Homo sapiens: one gene and its partner. The protein of the gene in region 2 purifies or fractionates together with the protein of the main gene of each other region. This does not show direct contact. Each region holds a gene or a part of one and is shown on either strand. Other genes may lie near its edges. The genes, in order: SOX13 and ZNF7.

The links.
Region 1: the proteins of ZNF7 (region 2) and SOX13 purify together in Homo sapiens (affinity purification with mass spectrometry; one large-scale study listed by BioGRID and IntAct). This does not show direct contact.

The regions. Positions count from the first base shown.
Region 1 is NC_000001.11:204,117,649-204,121,670, reverse strand, and holds part of SOX13 (transcription factor SOX-13), read right to left. Parts: coding exon 3,964-4,022; intron 1-3,963. UniProt on the Homo sapiens protein: Transcription factor that binds to DNA at the consensus sequence 5'-AACAAT-3'. Binds to the proximal promoter region of the myelin protein MPZ gene, and may thereby be involved in the differentiation of oligodendroglia in the developing spinal tube.
Region 2 is NC_000008.11:144,840,916-144,844,272, forward strand, and holds the end of ZNF7 (zinc finger protein 7), read left to right. Parts: exon of another isoform or gene 1-439; coding exon 440-2,253; 3' UTR 2,254-2,857; downstream 2,858-3,357.

The DNA of each region.
Region 1 (4,022 bases), on a different chromosome or scaffold from region 2:
ACCCACTCTAAATAGAGTTTCCCAGATTCTAGAGTCCCATCCAATGGCACAATGAGAGAGGGTAAAACACCTATTCATCCAACAGCTACTTTTATTTTGTACCTACTGGGCACAGGGCACAAAAGCGGCTGCCTGTTGTGTAGAACGTCTCATATGTATCATCTGACAATAATACATGGTATGTGATATATAACAGGGGCTGAATACATCATCATCCCATTTTACAGAAAAAGAAATGAAAACCTTAGAAGTCAAATGGGGCTGGGTGTGGTGGCTCATGCCTAGCACTTTGGGAGGCTGAGGCAGAAAGACTGCTTGAGGCCAAGAGTTCAAGACCAATCTGGTCAACATAGCAAGACCCCCATCTCTATTATTAAGAATTGAAGCCAGGCGTGGTGGCTTACGCCTGTAATCCCAGCACTTTGGGAGGACAAGGTGGGTGGATCACAAGGTCAGGAGTTCGAGACCACCCTGACCAGCATGACCAACATGGTGAAACCCCATCTCCACTAAAAATACAAAAATTAGCCGGGTGCGGTGGCACGCGCCTGTAATCCCAGATATTCAGGAGGCTGAGGCAGGAGAATCGCTTGAACCCAGGAGGCGGAGGTTGCAGTGAGTCGAGATTGCACCACTGCACTCCAACCTGGGGGACAGAGCGAGACTCTGTTTCAAAAAAAAAAAAAAAGAATTTAAAATTTTCAAAACTAAAAAAATAAAAATAAGAAGAAAAATGGGTTGTCCACAGAGCTATGAAATGGCAGCATCAGGATTTGAACCCAGGGCCTCTAGACTCCACAGCCTTTCCTTCTTCTCGACATGGCACTCCTGCCTACCCTACCTCACTCCCAGGCCCAGCATCCAGGTGGAGAGATAGGCCACATGTAGAAATCATGAAGTGCATGGCAGGTGGTGATGAGGGCCACACAGACAGAGCACCAGCAAACTCTGCTCCAGCTGGGGTAACTAGAGCAGGCTCCCTGTGGGAGCCGAGGTGTGCGCTAGTGCCTGCAGGATGGGCAGGATTTGGGCAAGTAGAGATGGAGTGGTGGGGTGTGTGAGGGTGAGCTGTGGGGAATGAGGCAGGCCATGGGGGCCAGGTTGGCCCCGAGGCCCATGAAGGCCGAGGTCAGGAGTACGGAGCCCATGCTGTGGGTACAGAGCACCATGTAAGGCTTGTGAGCTGGGGAGGGCCACTGTTTACAGTCAGCTTTTGCAAGGGACCTTGCTTGCTTAATTTCTGGAGCAAACAAAGTGGGAGGCAGCCATGCCAGTCCCGGGCTCCCACAGCTTATTTACTGCCTTACCTGCCCAGAAAGCAGTTGGGGGTCCTATCCCCGACCAGATCACTGTCCCCTTGCCTCCACAGCTCTCCTCCACACTCATGGGGAGTTGCAATGGTTTGGAATTGCCCTGTCCTCCACCTTCAACCTTCTCCACTCCCCATTCCCCCAGCTAACTGGAAACTTCCACATTGGGCCTGTCTTAGTCTACTCAGGCTGTTGAAACAAAGTGCCATAAACTGGACAGCTTACAGACCTCAGAAATTCATGCCTCAGTTCTGAAGGGGAATTTGCTTCAGAATGAATTATACCTTGAGTCTTACCTATAACTGATTTAGGTGAGATTTATTATTATTTTTGTCTGTTTTGCGACAGGGCCTCACTCTGTATGTCTCGCTTTGTCTCCCAGGAGGGTGTGCAGTGGTACAGACACAGCTCACTACAGCCTTGTCCTCCTGGGCTCACGCAATCCTCCTGCCTCAGCCTCCCAAGTAGCTGGGACCACAGGCACAGGCCACCATGCCAGGCTTTTTTTTTTTTTTTGTAGAGACAGGGTCTCACTTTGTTGCCCAGGCTGGTCTTGAACTCCTGGCCTCAAGCAATCCTCCTGCCTTAGCCTCCCAAAGTGCTGGGATCACAGACATGACCACTGTGCCTGGCCTAGGTGAGATTAGATGAGGCTCTGGACTTGAAACTTTTGAACTGATGCTGGAACAAGTTAAGATTTGGGAGCCTATTGGGATGGAATGAATATATTTTGCATATGACAAGAAAATGAACTGGGGAGAGTCTGGGGCAGAATGCTATGGTCTGAATGTGCCTCCCCCACCCCAATTCCTATGTTGAAATCTAATTCCCAATGTGATAGACTTAGGAGGTGGGACCTTTGGGAGGTGCCTGGGTCATGAGGGTGGAGCCCTCAGGAATGAGATTAGAGGCCTGAGGGAGCCCGTTTACCCCTTTCACCACCTGAGGACACAGTGAGAGACGCCATCTGTGAACCAGAAAGTCAGCCCTCACCAGACACCAAATATGCTGGCTTTATGATCTTGGAATTCACAGCCCCCAGAACTGTATGTGAGGAATAACATCTGTTGTTTATGAGCCACACGGTCCATGGTGTCTTTCTACAGCCCCTGAATGGATGAAGATGGGGCCTGGCTTTCTCAGTCCTTTGTGTTTCCCCTTCACACCACCCTACAGTGCCCGGCACAAACCAGGCAGGAGCAGAGAGCCAGTGGGGCTGAGCAGTCTACCCAAGCCCATGGCCTATAGGCCTCAGGGAATTTCCTCTTCTCTCTCTCTTTCTCGCCTGTGGAACAGGGAGGATGATCTAGCACGTGTTGCCTTTAAAGCTGTCCACACTCCTGGGGTAATTATGGGCAGCATCTCTGCCCTGTCCCCATAACTCTCTGTCACTGCCCTAGTTCAGGTATCATCCCCTGCTGCTAGAATCACCTAGCAGGTCCTGCTTCTGGCCAGTCTCCCCTCCACTCCCCACCCCTCAAAGCCAGAACGACACACTCACTTCTCAAATGTTCACATGCACCCCACAGCCTACAAAATAAATCCCAGACTCCATGCTCCCTCCCCAACTGCCCTGTACCGTCAGGTCCCACACCCTTGTCTGACACATGGCCATTCTGCTGAATTTCAGTGATGGGGTAGAAGGCCAGAGTGACATGGTGTAGGCAGGGACAAGAGTGTGAAGGTAGGAATCGTGGCTGTTAGAATTTGGGAGATGTTGGCTCACGCCTGTAATCCCAGCATTTTGGGAGGCTGAGGCGGGAGGATCACTTGCGGTCAGGAGACCAGCCTGGGCAACGCGGCGAAATTTCGTCTCTACTAAAAATACAAAAATTAGCCAGGTATGGTGGTGTGCACCTGCAATTCCAGCTACTCAGGAGGCTGAGGCAGGAGAATCGCTTGAACATGGGAGGTGGAGGCTGCAGCAGTGAGCTGAGATTACACCACTGCACTCCAGAGCCCAGGTGACAGAACAAGTAAGACTCTGTCTCAAAACACAAAACACAAACAAACAAAAAAGAATTTGGGAGATTTGTAAAACCCAGTTAATATTCCAGATTTTTTTTTTTTTTTTGAAATGGAGTCTCGCTCTGTCACCTAGGCTGGAGTGCAGTGGCATGATCTCAGCTCACTGCAACCTCCACCTCCCAGGTTCAAGCGATTCTCCTGCCTCAGTCTTCTGAGTAGCTGGGACTACAGGCATGCACCACCACACCCAGCTAATTTTTGTATTTTTAGTAAAGATGGGGTTTCACCATGTTGGCCAGGCTGGCCTCGAATTCCTGACCTCAAGTGATCCACCCACTTCGGCCTCCCAAAGTGCTGGGATTACATGCGTGAGCCACCACACCTGGCAATATTCCAGATATTAATACTCTGACACAGTAAATGTACTAGAGTTGGAGAGACTAGACCTGGATTGCTACATCATTTTACATCTGGAAAGGGCTTTATGGTTTTTCATTCTCCCAGTGAAGTTCAGAGAAATTCAGCAAGATTCAGAAAAAGAGGATGATTCTTCTACCAGACAGATCCAAAACTGAGGCCCAGAAAGTCCACATAGCAAATTAATGGATGAGAGTGGCTCCAGGGCGCTTTCCCTGACCTCAGGACAGGCTGGCCGCAGTGGTGGAACCTCCCTTCTCACACTCACCTGGTTTGCAGGGAATGGGCTGAATGGGTAAGGCCAGCTGGGAGTCAGGGGTGACAGGC
Region 2 (3,357 bases):
TCCTCATCACAATCCATGCTCTCCATTCAGAACTCAGACCCTGTACTGTTTCCTCGCCAGCTCGGATGCTGGAGCCCCTGACCCCGCAGCCCAATCCGTGGTAGCTTCCCACCCTTCTGGTCTTGCTTTGTCTCCTTTGCCTCTGCATGGACTGTGCCCCACACCAGTGCCTGTAGGATGGACCTCTCTGCTCACAGAACCCAGCCCTGCCCCAGCAATGAACATTCATTGCTATCGAATGAGTGAACAAGGTAAAAAGTATGAAACCACTTTTGAGAACTGTCAAAGGCTCTGCCTTCTCTTGCACGTTTCCACCTGGGGCCTCACAGTGCTCAGTGCAACTATCCTGGGAGCCTTGAGCCCTGGCCCCCGCATTTGTAGTCTTATCATTTCTCTGAGCACAGGGCCTAAGGAACGTCTTTGTTCCTGTTTATTTCAGATTCTACGATTAGGACTGAAAATGAGCAGGCCTGTGAGGACATGGACATCCTAAAATCAGAATCCTATGGGACAGTGGTCAGAATCTCCCCACAGGACTTTCCTCAGAATCCTGGCTTTGGAGACGTTTCTGATTCTGAGGTCTGGTTAGACAGTCATCTGGGCAGTCCCGGGCTGAAAGTGACAGGCTTTACCTTCCAAAATAACTGTTTGAATGAGGAGACTGTGGTTCCCAAGACCTTCACCAAGGACGCACCCCAGGGATGTAAGGAGCTGGGAAGCAGCGGCCTGGATTGTCAGCCTCTTGAAAGTCAGGGAGAGAGTGCGGAAGGGATGTCCCAGAGATGCGAGGAGTGTGGCAAAGGCATCAGAGCCACTTCAGATATCGCTCTGCATTGGGAAATTAATACACAGAAAATTAGCAGATGTCAAGAATGCCAAAAAAAGTTATCTGACTGCTTGCAGGGGAAACATACAAATAACTGCCATGGAGAGAAGCCGTACGAATGTGCAGAGTGTGGGAAAGTCTTCAGGCTCTGCTCGCAGCTTAATCAGCATCAGAGAATCCACACGGGAGAGAAACCCTTTAAATGCACTGAGTGTGGAAAAGCCTTCCGCCTGAGCTCAAAACTTATTCAGCATCAAAGAATCCACACTGGGGAGAAGCCCTACAGATGTGAGGAATGTGGAAAAGCTTTTGGTCAGAGCTCAAGCCTCATCCACCATCAGAGAATCCACACAGGAGAGAGGCCCTATGGTTGTCGTGAGTGTGGGAAAGCCTTCAGCCAGCAGTCGCAGCTGGTTAGACACCAGAGAACTCACACTGGGGAGAGGCCCTACCCTTGCAAGGAGTGTGGGAAGGCCTTCAGCCAGAGCTCCACCCTAGCCCAGCATCAAAGGATGCATACTGGGGAGAAAGCTCAAATTCTAAAAGCCTCAGACAGTCCAAGCCTTGTTGCACATCAGAGAATTCACGCTGTAGAGAAACCATTTAAGTGTGATGAGTGTGGGAAAGCTTTTAGGTGGATCTCTCGCCTGAGTCAGCATCAGCTGATTCACACTGGAGAGAAGCCTTATAAATGCAACAAGTGTACAAAAGCCTTTGGTTGTAGTTCACGGCTTATTCGCCATCAGAGAACTCACACTGGAGAAAAACCATTTAAATGTGATGAGTGTGGCAAAGGCTTTGTTCAGGGCTCACACCTTATTCAGCATCAGCGAATCCACACTGGAGAGAAACCCTATGTGTGTAATGACTGTGGAAAAGCCTTCAGTCAGAGTTCCAGCCTTATTTACCATCAGAGAATCCATAAAGGAGAGAAGCCCTACGAATGCCTCCAATGCGGAAAAGCCTTCAGTATGAGCACACAGCTTACAATACATCAAAGGGTTCACACTGGAGAGAGGCCCTATAAATGTAATGAATGTGGGAAAGCCTTCAGTCAAAACTCAACCCTTTTCCAACACCAGATAATTCATGCAGGGGTGAAGCCCTATGAGTGCAGTGAGTGTGGAAAAGCCTTCAGCCGGAGCTCATATCTTATTGAACACCAGAGAATACACACTAGGGCCCAGTGGTTTTACGAATATGGGAATGCCCTGGAAGGGTCCACCTTTGTGAGCCGTAAAAAGGTTAATACTATAAAGAAACTGCATCAGTGTGAAGACTGTGAGAAGATATTTAGGTGGCGTTCACACCTAATTATACACCAGAGAATTCACACCGGGGAGAAGCCTTATAAATGCAATGACTGTGGCAAAGCTTTTAATCGTAGCTCAAGGCTTACCCAGCATCAAAAAATTCACATGGGATAGACCACTTACATATAAATGTGTATATATGTGAATAAACCTATAGCCTTAACTTACTTATTTTATATGGAATCGTTTATACTGACAAACATGTAGAATGTTGGTAAAGGTTCAGAATTGCTCTCAAGAATATCCAACTTCAGGCCGAGTGTGGTGGCTTATGCCTGTCATCCCAGCACTTTGGGAGGCCAAGGCGGGCACATCACGAGGTCAGGAGGTTGAGACCATCCTGGGTAACAGGTGAAACCCCATCTCTACTAAAAATACAAAAATTTAGCTGGGCGTGGTGGCAGGCACCTGTGGTCCCAGCTGCTCGGGAGGCTGAGGCAGGAGAATGGCATCAGCCCAGGAGGCGGAGCTTGCAGTGAGCTGAGATCGCGCCACTGCACTCCAGCCTGGGTGACAGAGTGAGACTCCCTCTCAAAAAAAAAAAAAAAAAAAAAAATCCAACTTCATACAAAATGTATGTTTATTTCCTGAAATGTTTGACCTTAACCTGTTCAATAAAGCCTGTGTCCCTCAAAATCAGGGTGCAGTCTGCAGTTTTGAGTTGACAGGTCCCTGTGAATGAGGAAGCAGCACAAGGAGGGCTCTACGAGCGCTGCTAGACTGAGTAGGTTAAAATAATTTACCTAAACTCTTTTCCCTTAAGTATCAGTGGCTCACACTGGCTTCAACAATACGGAAATGCATTAGCTCATGTTGGAGGAGGTCCAGGAGTGCCTAGAATTCCAACTTCAAATTAGGTCCTTGTCTTAGAACTTAACCCAGCCACCCAGGACCAGAGGGCCCAGCCCTATCCCCTTCCTCAGAGAGGCAGGCTGGGCTAGCAGGTACACGCCATCATTACTGGTGTGGTTGGCATTTATGGAGCACATACCAGTGCCAGGCACAGAAGCAAGGTGTCACAGCAAGGTTCTGAGGTCACACTTGTGTCCCAGGGGCTTGCTGTGTGACCTAGGACATCATTGCCCTCCCTGAAACTCAGAGCCTTATTTGTGTATCTGAAAACATGCACTGTGAGAGGGTACTGAGAGGAAACAATGTAGAGAAACATGCCTTACTGGGCCTGTCAGAGAACGAGCACTCAAGCAAATGCAAGTACCA